Linked DNA regions of Homo sapiens. The protein of the gene in region 1 interacts with the protein of each later gene in a pairwise test. Each region holds a gene or a part of one and is shown on either strand. Other genes may lie near its edges.

Region 1 (3,898 bases):
TCCTTCAGCATTTGTGCCTGCAAAAGTGCTTCTAACAGCCCCTCTTCTTTGGCGTCCCTTCCTTAACCTTCTGAGCTTTCCATTGAAATGGGGAAGATGCATCAAGCTTTCCACTGAAATGGGGAAGATGGCAGCTCATCAGGTCCTTGCCTGAGTCACTCCAGACTCAGAAAGGGATGACAGTTACAGTCGCTCAGGAGGGGCTGCCTGTCTGCGGGTGTCTGGGCAGGGAAGAGAATGGGAACGCAGAGCTTCTGAAGGCCTCGGGACATCTGCAGTGGCTCCAGCCTGGCCCCACCCCACAGCCAGCCACTGCTGTCCTGCCCCATAACCTGGGTCCAGGGCCCTGTAGCACACCACCGAGCCTGGGAAGTAGGCTGTTGGTAGGACTTAGCGGGCAAATGAATGTGTGCAAGCGTTCATTCATTCCTCATCCGTCCGCTCAATGATCTGCCTCCCATTCCTCCCTCCCTCCCCAACCGCCACAGGTGTTTTCCGAGTACTTCAAGGAGCTGGAGGAGGAGAGCATCCGGGACAACTTTGTTATCATCTACGAGCTGCTGGACGAGCTCATGGACTTCGGCTACCCCCAGACCACCGACAGCAAGATCCTGCAGGAGTGAGTGGGCAGGGGTGGGGCCTGGGGCCAGGCCTGGGCGGTGTCATGACATCGACGTCATCAGGTGTGGAAACAGAAGGGGCAAATTTGTGTTCATGTTGTCCCCCACCTGCCTCCCACCTCCAGCAGTATTCGGGTTTTTACTAAGTTGCTCTTAGTGGTTTTAATTCGTTTCCTCCTCTACGCCCCCACATAACCGTGCTTTTCCTGCTCCTCATCTTTACTCTCCATCCACACAGATGCCTTCAGTACCTTGCTACTAAGGAGTCACCTCCCTTGTTTTTACTGTCATAAAATGAGACTGTGATCGAAATCTCCCCTCTTTGGAATCCTGCCCTTCAGATAAGAAGCAATGTGAATTAAGTGCTTCCTGGGGGCCGGGCCCCAGCACTTCACATTCACTCGATTCACAGCCTCCCCGTATACCGTCTCCCCATTTTACAGGGGACAAGCAAGCAGACTCCCAGAGAAGCCTGTGTTCCTAACCGCTGCACCTCCTGCTCCTTCAGCAGGATGGGGTCACCAGGTTACACTCCGAGGCGTCAGTTCCATCCACGTGCTCAGCAGGGACGGGAAGCAGCTCACACCCACTTCTTGTTTTCCTTCCCAACATGGTCTTCTTGGTCCCCCAAAATGAGCACTTCAGCCTCTATAACTTGAGTGTATTGGCTTTTGGAAATTGTGAAGATTTTTCTGTATGAAGCAGCCCCAGGTGAACCAGAGGCTGCCTTTTCTGGAGCTGCTGAAATCCAAGGGCTATTTTCAAGTCGGTCAGAACCTGCCCTGTACCCCCCACCCAACCCTGCCGAAATGTCAAGGCCAGAAGCTGTGGCGTTGGTGCGGGTACCACCTCCTTCACTCTGAGCGTGTGGCCCCACAGGTACATCACTCAGGAAGGCCACAAGCTGGAAACAGGGGCCCCGCGGCCACCAGCCACCGTCACCAACGCGGTGTCCTGGCGGTCCGAAGGCATCAAGTATCGGAAGAATGAGGTGTTCTTGGACGTCATCGAGTCTGTCAACCTCTTGGTAGGCCTCTTTTCTTTCCTTCTTCTGTAGGGTTTTATCTCTTCCACGATAGAAATAAACACAGCATTTTAAAACTGGCAAAGCCCCGAGAGCCGTTCTGTGTGGTAACAGATAGCAGGATTCAGTTTGGGCCACTCATTGAAATGTGAGTTTGTCTTATCTTTTTTTTTTGAGACGGAATCTCATTCTGTCGCCCAGGCTAGAGTGTGGTGACACGATCTCGGCTCACTGCAACCTCCGCCTCCCAGGTTCAGGCGATTCTCCTGCCTCAGCCTCCCGTGTAGCCGGGATTATAGGCACCCGCCACCACGCTCGGCTAAAGCTTGTTTTCTTTATTAGCATTTATGCTGACTGAGAATCCATACATGCACATTATTTTTAAAAATTAGAAGCAGGGTATGAGGTTAGAAAGTGAAGGGCTCTTATCAGTCACCATGCACAGAAAAAAAAAAAAGAAACTAAAGGGCTCCTATAATCAGAAAGATTAGGATTTATTCACCGTCACCCTCTCGGGCCTCATTCTGTAGACAGACAGAAACAAGTATATTGATTTTTCTATAAACCTGAGATCATAAGATGTGGTTCTCCTGCAGCTTGTTTTTTTGGTGGTGGTTGTTGTTTGGGTTTTGATTTTGCGTTCAGTGTTACTGTTTTGTATATTTTTTTCTTTTGGTTTTTTAATTATGAGGAAAGTTGACGTTTTGAAAATGAATTTTAGCGCTTGTACAGATTTGTGTACCCATCACCACACCCAGGACACAGAACCTCAAAACCTCCTCATGTTGCCCCTTTGTAGCTCCATGCTCCCCTCTTCCCCATTTCCTGGCCACCATTGAACTGTTCTCCATCACTGGAGTCTTCATCGTGTTGTGATTGTCACACGAGTGGCATCATATGTCACCGCAGCTGTCTTTCTGAGATTGTCGTATGAATGGCGTCATACAGTCATGAGCTCTCGAGTCTGGCTGCTTTAACTCATTCTAATTCTTTGCGATTCATCCAAATCCAATTGTTTTGCATATCAAAAGTCTGTTCCCTTTTATATTTATTTATATTTATTTTCTGTTCTGAACCACAGAAGGACATTTGGGTGGTTTTCCAATCTTTGGCAATTGTCAATAGAGTTGCTAGAAACATGTCGTGTCCAGGTTTATGTGTGGACATAAGTTTTCATCTCTCTAGGGTAAATACCCAGGAGTGGGATGGCTGGGTCACACGGTAAGTGTATGTTTACCTTTATAAGAAACTGCCAAACCATTGCTGTTTTGCATTCTCGCCAGCAACAGATGAGGGTTGTGATGACCCCACATCCTTTGTCAGTAGTTTTATTTTTGTCATCCTAATAGGTATGTAGTAGTATGTCAGCACAGTTTTGTGTTTTGTTTTTGTTTTTGTTTTTGAGACACAGTCTCGCTCTTGTCGCCCAGGCTGGAGTGCAATGGCACTATCTCCATTCACTGCAACCTCTGCCTCCCAGGCTTAAGCGATTCTCCTGCCTCAGCCTCCCGAGTAGCTGGGATTACAGGCACCCACCACCAGGCCTGGCTCATTTTTGTATTTTTACTAGAGACGGGGTTTCACCATGTTGGCCAGGCTGGTCTCGAACTCCTGACCTCAGATGATCCACCCGCCTCTGCCTCCCAAAGTGCTGGGATTACAGGTGTGAGCTACCACGCCTGGCCTATTCCATTTTCTTAATGGCTAATAATGTTGAGCATTGCTTTACATGTTTCTTTGTCATCTGTATATCCTCTTTGGAGAAATGTCTCTGTGCATCTTTTTAGCATTTTTAAATTGGGTTATTTTCATATAGTTGAGCCTTGATAGTTCTTTGTGTGTTCCAGATAGAAGTCCTCTGTCAGATAGGTGATTTGCAAGTATTTTCCCCCAGTCTGTAGCTTATCTTTTTATTCTCTTAGCAGTGTTTTTTTTTTTTCGACAGAGTCTCACTTTGTAGCCCAGGCTGTAGTACAAGTGGCATGCTTGGCTCAGTGCAACCTCCACCTCCGGGCTTCAAGTGCTTCTCCAGCCTCAGCCTCCCAAGTAGCTGGGATTACAGACGCATGCCACCATGCCCGGCTAATTTTTGTATTTTTAGTCGAGACAGGGTTTCACTATGTTGGTCAGGGTGGTATCGAACTCCTGACCTCAGGTGATCTGCCTTCCTCGGCCTCCCTAAGTGTTGGGATTACAGGCGTCGGCCACCATGCCCAGCCCCCAATACTATATTGAATAGGAGTGGTGAGAGAGG
Region 2 (4,472 bases), on another chromosome or scaffold:
ATGGGAGAGAGAGACAAAGAAGTAGAGAAAAAAATGCAATGATTAGAAAAACCAATAAGCCACAAGGGAAACAAAAGGCATAGCAGCCAGAACTTATTAAAATATAGGTCAGATGTCAGGACTCCTCTGCTCAAAACCCTCCAGTGGCTCCAGCTCACTCAGTAAAAGCCAGAGACCTCACGCTTGATCATAAGGCCCCCTGCATTCTCCTGTGACTTCCTGACCCACTGTTTTCCTCATTGCTCACTCAGCCACATTCACTTCCCTTCTGTTCCTCAGACATGCCAGGCACATACTCACCTTTGCACTGGCGATCTCTTTTGCTTGGCAGGCTCTTTCGCAGACAGTGTCACCTGTCACCTTCTCAAGGAGGCCTTCTATGGCCACCCTAGTTAAATTTTAACTTCCCTTCCTCCCCTCTCCCCTCCCTATCCTCCTTCCCTCCTCTTTTTTGCCTCCATTGTGTTTATCACTATCTAAGATGTTATATATTTTACTCACTTATCTTGCTTACGGTCTCTTTCCCCCATTAGGACATAAACTCCATGTAGGGAAGGATTTTTGTCTGTTTCTTTCACTCCTGCATTCCCAACATGTAGAAGTGTTTCTGGTACACGAAAGATGCTCAGGAAATGTATGAATAAGAACACTGAAGGATGTGGACAGAGAAATACCTTCTTAAGGTTGTACATGCATGGCCAGGTGCCGTGGCTCATGCCTGTAATCCCAGCTACTTGGGAGGCTGAGGTGGGAGGATCATTTGAGGCCAGGAGTTCAAGACCAGCCTGGATAATTTAGCGAGACTCCACAAAAAACTTGAAAAGATTAGCTGGGCATGGCACACGCCTGTAGTCCCAGCTACTCAGGAGGCTGAAGCAGAATTGCTTGAGCCCAGTAGTTTGATGCTGCAGTGAGCTATGATCACACCCCTGCACTCTAGCCTGGGTGACAGAGCAAGACTATCTGTCTCTAGCAACAACAACAAAAAAGATAGTACATGTAGGAAAGGTATTTTTTTTTTGTTTCTTTTTTTAAGCATCAGAGGTATCACGCTGAAGGGAAGTTATCTTTGAAATGAGATCATCTAAGCTGAGATTTGAAGGATAAATTGGAGCAGTTAGGAGAGGATAATCCAAGCAGAAGGATCAGCAAGGGTAGAGATAGTGAAGAGTTGGCTGTTAGAGGAACAAAGAAGGCATGTGGGCCTGGAGGCAAGGACCTGGTACTTATATCCTGTGCCAGAGCCCCCCACCTTCTGCAGCTCTGTCACTCTGAGCTGATACCTATGGGAGCAGGTGAGAGTGACTTGGCCTCACTGAACGTTTCTCCCACTGGAGATGTTGCCACCTGATCTTCTACCCTTGCCATTTCTTCTCTCTCTCATAATTTATTCACTTAACTTCCATTTATTGGCTGTAAATGTGCTAGGGGTCTGGCATGTTCAATTTCAGTATAGTTAGAATAGCTTGACAATCAGAGCAGATGTATCTCTGATCCTGGATAACCCCGTGAATGGAACATGGAGAAGCTGCTCTAGCAGAGGTTGGTTTACAAAACATGAAATTTGCCCAAGAAGAGAGTTGAGCACTGGTCATTCAGCTACTTATTGAACACCTGTTTGCCAGGTACCAGCCTAGGAGTCAGGAATATGATAGTGAACAAAATGGACAAAATCCTTACCCCCATTTACATTAGGGAATTTATAGGGGGAGAAAGAATAGACAACGTAAGTATATTTTATAGTGTGTAGGTAATAGGTAATAAGTACTTTGAAGGGAAAAAGGGCAAAGAGGGTTAGGAAGTGGTGGGGATTATGGGGGAGGGGTATACAATTTTAAATAAAATGGTCAAAGAAGGCCTCAATGAGAAGATGACATTTGAGCCAAGACCTAAAGAGGTGAGGGACTGAGCCATGAGGCTGTCTGGAGAAAGAGCCTTCCTAGCAAAGTGAATAGCACGGGCAAAGGCCCTGGGGTGGATGCATGTTGTGTTCGAGGATCAGTAAAGAGGCCTGTGCGGCTGGAGCTGAGGGAATGATGGGGAGAAGAGTTCAAAGGGTAATGGCCAGCAGGGTGCATGCGTGAGAGAGGAGGGGCATGCATCTCTTATAGGACCTGTGGGCTATGAGGCCATGGTAGGGACTTTGGCTTTTACTATGAGTAAGACAGAGAACCGTTGGAAGACGTTGAGCAGAGGGGTGCTACTGTCTGATTTGGACTGTAAGAGGATCATCCTGGCTGTTGCTGAGATGGGGTGTCAGCAAAGCAGTGTGGGAGCAGCTTTGTTAGCACTCTAAATGGAAGGTGATGCTGGCTTGGAGCTGGGGTTAGTGATGGAGCTAGTGAGAAGCTGCTCATGGATTCTAGATTCATTTTGAAGGTCGGAATCCAATAGGATTTGCCGATAGATTTAAAGGAGAGTATGTTGTTAAGAGTGACTCAGGTTTTTAGCCTGAGGCCCTCTTAAAGATGGTGCTGGCAGGAACTAGATGATGTAGACTGCAGGGTGAGCCAGTTGGGGAAAGGAAGGAAGCAGGAGGTCAGTTTTTATCCCATTGTTTGAGCTGCCTGCTAGTCATCTCCACAGTAATGTGGAGATGTCAGTTACACAGTTTGGACATGTGTGCCCGGGGGTTCTGGGGAGAGGTTGGGCTATGTGGATGGTATGTAAAGCTGTGATACCGGATGATCCACCAAAGAGGCAAAATAGCATAGATGGGGAAGAGAAGAGGTACCAGGCCTGAGCCCTGGGGCACACAGTGTTGAAGGAGAAGGAGAGGAACAAGCAAAGGAGACTGAGAAGGCGCAGACAGTGGCGTAGGAGGGCAGGCAGAGAGCATGGCATCCTAGCATTTGAGGGAAGACAGGTTTTCAGGAAGGAGGGAGTGATCAGTAGTGTCAAATGCTTATCAGCATGAGACTTGTCATTTGACATGACCATTGTGTCTTCTCCTGGCAGGACCCAACACACCTGGCATCCAGAACCATTTCTGAATCTCATTCTTCCTTCCCTAGCCTCGTCTGCTCCTTTCCCTTCCAGGTCCTTTCCTTCAGCCAGGCAGCGGGGCTCACAGACTTCTTGTTTTGGCCTTAGGTAAATCACTCATCTCTCAGTGTCTCTAATTCCTTGTTTTTTAACTGAATTACCCTGAGAATTAAATGAGAAGGGTTGTAAATCACTTAGCAAGAAGCCGTTCCCCAGCTAGTGTTGATTTAATTGTTGTCAGTTCCCTCCGTTGTCACATTGGCAATTTCGTGGTGCATCTCTTTGCCACCTCCACTCTTGCCTCTCTAAATCTGACCTGTCTTTTTGCGTCAGCCAAGCCCCTCTTCATCTAAGAGAACTTCCCTTGCTGCTCCACCTATCTCAGAACCCTCCTCCTCTGGAGGCATGATCACTCTGCCGTTCCCCTGCAGTCCTTTACCTGGCCTCTAAATCTGTAAGAGCTCAGTGAGAAAAGACTGTCCTTTGTTTACTGTGTGCATGCTTCCGTGTGGGGCACAGTTCCAGGCATGGAGCGGATGGTGCTCTACACTGTTAATTTGACAGATCTTCAGAAAGTGTTCCCATTACATAGATGGGAAAACCGAGATCACAAAGAGCGTTGTTCTGTAGTCTCTGGCCTCTTTCTCCTCATCTCGATTAATTTAAGTATTGTTCAGAAGAAGCCTTACTTACTTTATTTTCAAGTCCAGAGGAACTTTTTCTTTTTTTGAGATGGAGTCTTGCTCTGTCACCCAGGCCAGAGTGCAGTGGTGCGATTTCAGGTTCAAGCAATTCTCCTGCCTGAGACTCCTGAGTAGTTGGGACTATAGGTGCGAGCCACCATGTCCAGCTAATTTTTGTATTTTTAGTAGAGATAGGTTTCGCCATGTTGGCCAAGCTGGTCTCGAACTCCTCACCTCAAGTGATCTGCCCACCTCGGTCTCCTAAAGTGCTGGGATTACAGGCATGAGCCACTGCGCCCATCACTTTTTTTTCTTCACAGCAGATCTTTCCGCACATTACGGCTTATAGATCAGTTCAGAACTGGTACCTGATTCTAGAATGGAGTTCTAGAGACTCAAAGCCAATATAAGAACGTTTGCATGTGACATTTGTCTGCCTTTAGTTCCTTTTCATTCTGAAGTCTTTAATTGCTAGTGGGCCTCAGGAAACTGACTTTTTTTTTTTTTTTTTTTTGTGGGACGGAGTCTTGCTCTGTTGCCCAGGCTGGAGTGCAGTGACACGATCTCAGCTCACTGCAAGCTCCGCCTCCTGAGTTCACACCATTCTCCTGCCTCAGCCTCCCGAGTAGCTGGGACTACAGGCACCCGCCACCAGGCCCAGCTAATTTTTTGTATTTTTAGTAGAGATGGGGTTTCACCGTGTTAGCCAGGATGGTCTCGATTTCCTGACCTCATGATCCGCCCGCCTCGGCCTCCCAAAGTGCTGGGATTACAGGCGTGAGCCACTGCGCCCGGCCTTTTTTT
Region 3 (4,472 bases), on another chromosome or scaffold:
ACCATCTCACCTGAACCCTGTCCAACTCACAGCTGCCTCACTGGCCTTTGCCACTGCCCTCTCTGATGGAGCAAGGGTCTGGCCTTCCAAGCAAATGTCAGCCTCAGATTCAAAAGACACATAGGAAGGAGCAACACCCAACACACTGAAAACTCCTGCCCGATCCACAAAGACCCCAGTGCAAGCGATGGGCAGCATCAGATTGATGGAAACCACACCCTTTCATTTAGAATTTTTATGCACACGAGTAACCTTAGTTTCCAAGTTCACATGACAACAAGCAAAAGTGACATACAGTGCAGCCAAACAGTTCACTTATAACTTAGCTTTTTTTGTTGTTTTTTTTGTTTTTTGTTTTTTTCCAAAGAATAGTTCCTTAAAATGGATGCTCCTGGGATGTGAATAAAGAAAATACGTCTGAAAGGTGAGGATTTCAAACAGTAGATTTCTTCATCCTTCAAATTTCTGACCCATGATGGCAGGCATTGTACCTCATGCCTCCTGCTCACCCGCTTTTCCCAGAGGTGAGCACACATGGGCCCTTCACTTGGAGAAGCTGCTGGTGAGGCCCATCTCCTCCTCCCCCTGCAGTAGTGCTTCAATGGGAATCAGATTGGACGGGGTGTCCAGGCTCTGGAGGGATAGAAACTCTGACACATCCATGGCACTTAATGTTTCTGTCTGAGGGTCTGAAGGAGTCTCTGCTTGTCGGCTTTGCTCACAGGAGGAGGGCAAGGTAGAGGATGATGACCCGGGAACAGGGGCTGAAGAGAAAGTCTGCGCTGGGAGCTGCAGGCTGGGCCCATCAGGAGCCTGGGGGCTCGGCTCTGGAGGGGGTGGGGAGGAGCAGCCCTTTCTCCTGCTGGATGCCCGCTCCTTTGCAGAGTCCCGGCATGCACACTGACACTGACATGCCTCTTCTTGTTTGATGATGATCACAGGAACACTGAGGCCAATCTGCTGGACAGAGCTCCCTGCGAGAGAGGCAAGAGAGACTGCTCTTCAAGTAGCTGCAGGGGCAGGAGCATGAGGGACAGGGATACATGGACTAGGTGAGAGCAGAGTGCCATGGGAACCATGGGAAGGATGGTTGCCACACTTCGGGCTTCGTTCTGCTTTAAATTGGACCACATGCCCTCTGAGGTAAAAGAGGGACACTCCCCAGCCCGAGACAAAGTCCCGTTTCCTTAGAAAGTCACACACACGATCTAGATGCACCCTGTATTTCCAGCTTCATTTCCAGTCATTCTCCATTGCACCCTCCCTGTGGAGGCCTACTTTTCCTGACACGTTCTTTATACCCCTGGGCCTGTGGGCTCTTCCTTACGACTAAAATCCCTGGACACCTCTCTTCTGGAGAACTGACACTCATCTTTCAAGACCTAGCTCACTCCCCCACTCTCTGTAGGCCTATGCAGAGGACTAGCTTGGATGAAGCCGGTACCCAGCCTCCCGGCACACATGCACAGTGCTGCTGTTTTCCTTCCACACCTCTCTCCTTGCGGTACAGGACCTGCTTGGTTCTGCCTGCCCAGGAGACTCTGAGCTCCTTTAGGACATCTTACTCATCTCTCTTTCTCTCATGTGTTGTACGAACACTTGCTCCATATTCAGCCAGGCTTTGTGTGTCTTGACAGAGCTAAAGACCAATGGGCAGGATGAGGTGCAGTGGCTCATGCCTGTATGTAATCCCTGTACTTTGGGAGACTGAGAAGGGAGGATTCTCTTGAGCCCAGGTGTTTGAGACCAGCCTGGCCAATATAGTGAGACTCTGTCTCTACACATAATAAAGAAAAATTAGGCCGGGCGTGGTGGCTCATGCCTATAATCCCAGCACTTTGGGAGGCCAAGGTGGGCAGATCACTTGATGTCAGGAGTTTGAGACCAGCCTGGCCAACATGGTGAAACCTTGTCTCTACTAAAAATACAAAAATTAGCTGGGCATAGTGTTGAATGCCTGTAATCCCAGCTACTTGGGAGACTGAGACATGAGAATCACTTGAACCTAGGAGGCAGGGGTTGCAGTGAGCCGGGATTGCGCCACTGCAGTCCAGCCTGGGCAACAGAACGTGACTCCATCTCAAAAAAAAAAAAAAAAAGAAAGAAAAAAAAGAAAATTAGCCAGGCATGGTGGTGGAGCATGCCTATGGTCCCAGCTACTTGGGGGGCTGAGGCAAGAGGATTGCCTGAACTCAGGAGGCCCAGGCTGCAGTGAGCTGTGATCGTGCCACCATACTGCAGCCTGGGTGACAGTGAGACCTTGTCTCAAAAACAAAACAAAACAAAGGCCAGTGGGCAGGAGAACAGGGTGGGAACGGGGAGGCCTGACAACTAGTGCTTTGGTTCCACCACAGATTCACTTACAACCTTGGGGGAGTCAATTAATTTTTCTGGGTCCCAGTGTCTTAATCTATAAAATAAAGAATTTGAATAAAAGGAACTTTCAGCTCTATATGTGTCTCTGACCCAGATGCTATTTCTTCATTACTGTAATTAGAAAAGAGTCCAGTGAATTAACAACTGCCCTCTTTAGCATTAGCTGTGATTCAAAAATTTTTTTCTGGCTACATTTTAAAGCTGTATCTGAAAGGGAAAGAACTGTTACTAGTTAAAGAATGTTAAACACGGTATTTTGGCCAGACGTATACTAACTTCTAATAGTTGTGAGAATATGAAATACTCTAGCCAACAATACAATGTGAAGAATTTAACTGAGGCTGTTTAAAGATTTTTAAAGTTTTAGAAACTGGGACAAAGCAATAATTAGCTGTGCCTCAAGGGACCCACAGAGTTGCCTTCTCTTAAGGCTAACATGGAATTACATACCTGGGCTACTGGCTACTGGTACTGCAGTGGTAAAAAACACCTTCTCAACTTTAGATGCTTGCTGCTGAAAAAAGAAAAAGAAATCTCATTTATAGCCACTGTAATATGGCAGATCCCCAGGGACCTGAAGCCTCACCAACTGTAATGGTCATCCAAGAAGACAGAAAACCCTTAGTGTTCAGGGATTTTTGTACTGAGTGATGTTTTGTTTGTGCTCTGACATGAGGTCACTGCACTGTTTGACATTCAGTGCTGACAACGTAGTTAGCTTTGTACGCCACTAGTTGGCTGGCTCCCAGCTGCCTAATCCAGTAGGTTCTGTATCCAAAGGCTCCTCCTCCTCCAAGGTTGCTTTTCTCAAGCAGATTGTCTTCTCAGAGGGATCCCAGGGCTAGCTTTCCTTCAGGCTCTCCACATTCCCTGCTGCCCCCTAGTACTTCTAAGAAAGCTGGAAAGTTCTTTTTTTCCCCCTCAGAGATTAAGCTGCATGCCAAGGACAGGTTAAGGCTTCCTCTCACAGGTAGACAGCCCTGTAAAGGCCTTGTGCTGTAAGGTGCACAGCATAGTTCAAGGGTGGGCCCTGGATTCAGCCACACTTGGATTCAAGTCCAAGCTCTGCCACTTATTAGTTGTTGGTGTTGGGCATGTGATTTAACTTCTTAAGAGTCTTGTTTCCCCACCTGTAAAAACAGGAATAATAACTACTATGGATGGAGTATCTGTCCCCTCCAAAACTCATGTTGAAAGTTAATCCCCAGTGTGGCAGTATTGAGAGGCTGGGTTTTTAAGAGGTGACTGGGTCATGAATGAATTAATTCACTCATGGATTAATGAGTTATCATGGGAGTGGGACTGGTGGCTTTATAAGAAGAGTAAGAGAAGGAGGGTGTGGTGGTACATGCCTATAGTCCCAGCTATTTGGAAGACTGAAGGAGGATCACCTGAGCCCAGGAGTTCAAGGCCAGCCCAGCCTGGAACATAGTGAAATTCTCTCTCTTAAAAAAGGCCAGGCGCAGTGGCTCACGCCTGTAATCCCAGCACTTTGGGAAGCCGAGGCGGGTGAATCACAAGGTCAGGAGATCGAGACCATCCTAGCTAACATAGTGAAACTCCATCTCTACTAAAAATACAAAAAATTAGCCGGGCATGGTGGCGGGCGCCTGTAGTCCCAGCTAATCGGGAGGCTGAGGCAGGAGAATGGTGTGAACCCGGGTGGTGGAGCTTGCAGTGAGCCGAGATCGCGCCACTGCACTCCAGCCTAGGTGACAGAGCGAGACTCCATCTCAAAAAAAAAGGCCAGGTGTGGTGGCTCACGCCTGTAATCCCAGCACTATGGGAGGCCGAGGCGGGCAGATCACGAGGTCAGGAGATCGAGACCATCCTGGCTAATACGGTGAAACCCCATCTCTACTAAAAATACAAAAATTAGACGGGTGTGGTGGCGGGTGCCTGTAATCCCAGCTACTCGGGAGGCTGAGGCAAGAGAATGGTGTGAACCTGGGAGGCGGAGGTTGCAGTGAGCCGAGATCGCACCACTGCACTCCAGCCTGGACAACAGAGTGAGACTCCGTGTCAAAACAAAAAAAAAAAAATGAAGAGGAAGAGAGGCCCGAGCTAGGATGTTCAACCCCTCGCCATGTGATGCC
Region 4 (4,472 bases), on another chromosome or scaffold:
AAACCCTTATATGTTAGATGTGAAATCATATCTCTGGATTTTATTTACCCACTGCAATCTACCCTGTATAAAGTGGTCTGCTCAGAGCCCAATTTTCGCCAATTAAGTATAAGCCCAAGACAGCTGAGAATCAAAATAAGCACGTGGCTGGCAATTGTCGGTCCTGTTGCCCAAAAAGATATTGTCCATCATTAAACCCAAGTCTCAAAGTCAGCAGAATGAGAAGTTCACACTGTGAGATGCAAGCAAGAATGGAAATCAACTGTGTGACATCTCATAGTCATATATTCAGTGACTGGTCCTGTTGACAACTACTTAATTATTTATTTGTTTTTTATTTTTATATTCTTTTAGAGGCAGATCCTCCCTCTGTTGCCCAGGCTGGAGTGCAGTGGTGCAATCATAGCTCACTGTAATGCAGAACTCCTGGGCTCAAGTGATCCTCCTGCCTCAGCCTCCTGAGTAGTTAAGACTACAGGTACACACCACCATGCTGGGCTAGTTTTAAGATCTTTTCTGGAGAGACAGGATCTCGCTATGGTGCCCAGGGTGGTCTCAAACTCTTGGGCTCAAGTGATCCTCCCACTGCAGCCTCCCAAAGCACTGGGATTATAGGCGTGAGCCACCACACCTGGCCCCACTTCATTATTTAAATTATTTTTATTCCTTCATTCCTCCTTTTTTTTGCTGAATATGTATAATTAAATTCACACAAAGCATGTTAAGTGAATATATGATGTAGCTCCACTGCACAAGAGAAATTGTTTTTGTATCCCCTATTGCACCGTCTTTTGAAAAAATGAAGGCCCTGGATATCAATGACTTAATACAGTGTCACATCAGGAATGAATGTCAACACCCGAACCAGAAACTTGATTTTCAGTGTTCTAACAGAAACTTGTATGCCACCACTCAAACAAAAAGCAAAAAAAAATGACATACTTGATAATATTAGTTCCAAACATAAAACGAAAACATCATACCTGCAGAATATATTGAGTGAGGTCAACTGCTTCTTTCTTCTCATGCACAAGTAGAGTTTCTTTGTCTTCTACAGTAATAATATTAATTTCTCCACGACGTACCTCCCTCATGCCCAGGGGGCGTTTTCGAACACAAACTCTGATTTTCTCCATCTCAGTCCAAGGATTCTGTTTCTCTGAAGTGTTCTGTCTAATATGTTTATAAACAGGCTTTTAATTTTTAATAATAGGACAAGATTACTTAACAGGTCAAAGTATTGGTACCTTTTAGCCGGGCGCGGTGGCTTACGCCTGTAATCCCAGCACTTTGAGAGGCCGAGGTGGGCGGATCACGATGTCAGGAGATCAAGACCATCCTGGCTAACACGGTGAAACCCCATCTCTACTAAAAATACAAAAAATTAGCCAGGCATAGTGGCGTGCGCCTGTAATCCCAGCTACTTGGGAGGCTGAGGCAGGAGAATGGCGTGAACCCGGGAGGCAGAGCTTGCAGTGAGCCGAGATTGCGCCACTGCACTCCAGCCTGGGCGACAGAGCCAGATTCTGTCTCAAAAAAAAAAAAAGTATTGGTACATTTTGCTGTATATTAGGCATAATATATTTCTTAAAGTTACAAAGTAAAGTGTCAACCCTGAGAAAGTTCTTCTATCTCCATCCCCACCCTGCTCCGCCCTTTTCCTTGCAAAAACACAAATAACAGAACAACAACAAAAAACCAACCAACAAACAAAAAACCCCTAAGAGATCATATATAGAATACTATTTTATACAATTGTTTCATATCAATTCTGATTTCCTTAGCCCTCCAACTGGCTGCTGAAAAAAAATTTTTTTTGAGATAGGATCTCACTCTGTCACCCAGACTGGAGTACAGTGGCACAGCCATGGCTCATTGCAGCCTCAACCTCCAGGGTTCAAGAAATTCTACCTCAGCCTCCTAAGTAGCTAGGACTATAGCATACAACACCGCAGCTGGCTAATTTTTGTAATTTTTGTAGGGACAGGGTCCCACTATCTTGCCCAGGCTGGTCTTCAACTTATGGCCTCAAGCAATCCTCCCATTTTGGCCTGTCAAAGTGCTGGGATTACAAGCATCAGTCATCACGCTCAGCCTGGAGAATAATTTTTTTACTGGGATCTGAATTGGTTTAAAAAAAAAAAAACCAGCAAATAATTTTCTAATATAATGAATGCATAAAGCACTAATTTTATGGCATGTTTTAAAGCAAATTTTATTTTCTTAACCAACATTTAGGGACTTTAAAATGCATCATTTTTGCATGAAACTGCAGATGGAATAAATAAATGACAGAATAAATGAAATGTACCATTTTGAGGTACTGTGGGAAAATCGTGACAATCATTGAAACTGGATGACGGGCCAGGTGCGGTGGCTCACGCCTGTAATCCTAGCACTTCGAGAGGCTGAGGCGGGCAGATCACTTGAGGTCAGGAGTTCGAGACCAGCCTGGCCAACATGGTGAAACCCCATCTCTACTAAAAATATAAAACTTAGCTGGGCATGCTCACTTAAACCCAGGAGGTGGAGTTCACAGGTGAGATAGTGCCATTGCATTCCAGCCTGGGCAACAGAGCAAGACTCTGTCTGAAAAAAAAAAAAAAAAAAAGAAAAAAGAAAAAGAAATTGGATGATGGACATATTGGGATTCAGTGTTCTATTTTTTTCTTCTTTTGCATATGTTTGATTTTTCACAAGAAAAGGGAATTTTTTGTTTTGAGACAGGGTCTTGCTCTATCACCCAGACTGGAGTGCAGTGGTGCGAGCATAGCTCACTGAAGCCTCAACCTCCTGGGCTGAAGCCATCCTCCCACTTCAGCCAATAGTAGCTGGAACTACAGGTGCACACCATCATGTCTGGCTAATTTTTGTATTTTTGTAGAAACAGGGTCTCACCATGTTGCCCAGGCTGGCCTCGAACTCCTGGGCTCAAGCAATCTGCCTGCCTTGGCCTCCCAAAATGCCAGGATTGCAGGCATGAGCCACTGTGCTCATCAAAAATGAAAATTTTTAATGCTTTTTTTTTTTTTTGAGACAGAGTTTCATTGTGTCACCCAGGCTGGAGTGCAGTGGCACAATCTTGGCTCACTGCAACCTCTGCCTCCTGGGTTCAAGCGATTTTCCTACCTCAGCCTCTAGAATAGCTGGGACTGCAGGCACCTGCCATGACGCTCTGCTAATTTTTGTATTTTTAGTAGAGATGGGGTTTAGCCATGTTGGCCAGGCTGACCTTGAACTCCTGACCTCAGGTGATCCACCCGCCTTGGCCTCCCAAAGTGCTGGGATTAGAGGTGTGAGCCACTGTGCCTGGCCTAATGCATCATTTTAATAAGGGTTTTGTGTTAAAATCTTTAGTTGTTGGATATCAATAACCTAATCATATAAAGCTGATCAAAGAGGATAGAAAATGTTTGGTCCTTTTTAAAATTGTTCAGGGCTCTAGGATGACTCATATGAACAAAAGGCCCATAGTTTCAAGTTCAAGGAGCAAAAAGACATGCATGTTTTTTTAAAAAGCTCTAGTTTGGGCAGGGCAGAGTGGCTCTCACCTGTAATCCCAGTGCTTTGGGAAGCTGAGGTGGGAGGATCACTTGAGGCCAGGAGTTCAAGACCAGCCTGGGTAACATAGTGAGATCCCCAACTCTACAAAAAATTGAAAAATTAGCTGGGGACAGTGGTGCATACCTGTAGTCCTAGCTACTTGGGTGGCTGAGGCAGGAGGATCACTTGACCTCAGGAGTTTGAGGCCCCAGTGGACTATGACTGCACCACTGCACTCCAGCCTGGGTGACAGAGCAAGACCCTGTCTCTACAAATCAAACAAACAAACAAATAAACAAAAGAGTCAAATAAATGAAATGGTAATGGTTAAACTAAAATATCCATCCTATCCTTGATGGTGTTAAATAAAGTGGTATTTTTACTTATAAGTAATTCCAATTTAGATTTTTATGTACTGTTCAGTAAAAAAGTAATATTCAAGAAAATAGGCCAGGCGTGGTGGCTCACGCCTGTAATCCCAGCATTTTGGGAGGCTGAGGCGGGTGGATCACAAGGTCAGGAGATCAAGACCATCCTGGCTAACATGGTGAAACCCCACCTCTACTAAAAATACAAAAAATTAGCCAGGCATAGTGGCGGGCGCCTGTAGTCCCAGCTACTCGGAAGGCTGAGGCAGGAGAATGGCATGAACCCGGGAGGCGGAGCTTGCAGTGAGCAGAGATTGCACCACTGCACTCCAGCCTGGGCGACAGTGCGAGACTCCGTCTCAAAAAAAAAAAAAAAAAAAAGAAAATATTTACTCCTTCACCGCTGAGGTAACCAATGCAATAGCAACAATCTGCCTTCATAGTCAAGGAACAATCTATTCCTCTCAGAATTAAAAGAAGAAAACAGTATTACATGCTCTGTGATCTCCTAGACCAAACAAAATGTTTTCAGAAATATTATAATAAAAATTCACTTATGTA

The links. Proteins that work in one complex are often made in the same cells at the same time.
Region 2: the proteins of AP1M1 (region 1) and AP1B1 interact in a two-hybrid assay, tested with the Homo sapiens proteins (2 studies listed by BioGRID, with this or other methods).
Region 3: the proteins of AP1M1 (region 1) and MTF1 interact in binary tests that used the Homo sapiens proteins (3 or more experiments, as listed by UniProt).
Region 4: the proteins of AP1M1 (region 1) and KIF24 interact in binary tests that used the Homo sapiens proteins (3 or more experiments, as listed by UniProt).

What each region holds. Positions count from the first base shown.
Region 1 is NC_000019.10:16,207,531-16,211,428, forward strand, and holds part of AP1M1 (AP-1 complex subunit mu-1), read left to right. Parts: intron 1-488; coding exon 489-619; intron 620-1,499; coding exon 1,500-1,647; intron 1,648-2,829; coding exon of another isoform or gene 2,830-2,865; intron 2,866-3,898. UniProt on the Homo sapiens protein: Subunit of clathrin-associated adaptor protein complex 1 that plays a role in protein sorting in the trans-Golgi network (TGN) and endosomes.
Region 2 is NC_000022.11:29,378,571-29,383,042, reverse strand, and holds part of AP1B1 (AP-1 complex subunit beta-1), read left to right. Parts: intron 1-4,472. UniProt on the Homo sapiens protein: Subunit of clathrin-associated adaptor protein complex 1 that plays a role in protein sorting in the late-Golgi/trans-Golgi network (TGN) and/or endosomes.
Region 3 is NC_000001.11:37,814,593-37,819,064, forward strand, and holds part of MTF1 (metal regulatory transcription factor 1), read right to left. Parts: intron 3,507-4,472; coding exon of another isoform or gene 3,486-3,506; exon of another isoform or gene 2,891-3,485; coding exon 2,827-2,890; intron 975-2,826; coding exon 544-974; 3' UTR 1-543. UniProt on the Homo sapiens protein: Zinc-dependent transcriptional regulator of cellular adaption to conditions of exposure to heavy metals. Binds to metal responsive elements (MRE) in promoters and activates the transcription of metallothionein genes like metallothionein-2/MT2A.
Region 4 is NC_000009.12:34,305,269-34,309,740, forward strand, and holds part of KIF24 (kinesin-like protein KIF24), read right to left. Parts: intron 1,174-4,472; coding exon 984-1,173; intron 1-983. UniProt on the Homo sapiens protein: Microtubule-dependent motor protein that acts as a negative regulator of ciliogenesis by mediating recruitment of CCP110 to mother centriole in cycling cells, leading to restrict nucleation of cilia at centrioles.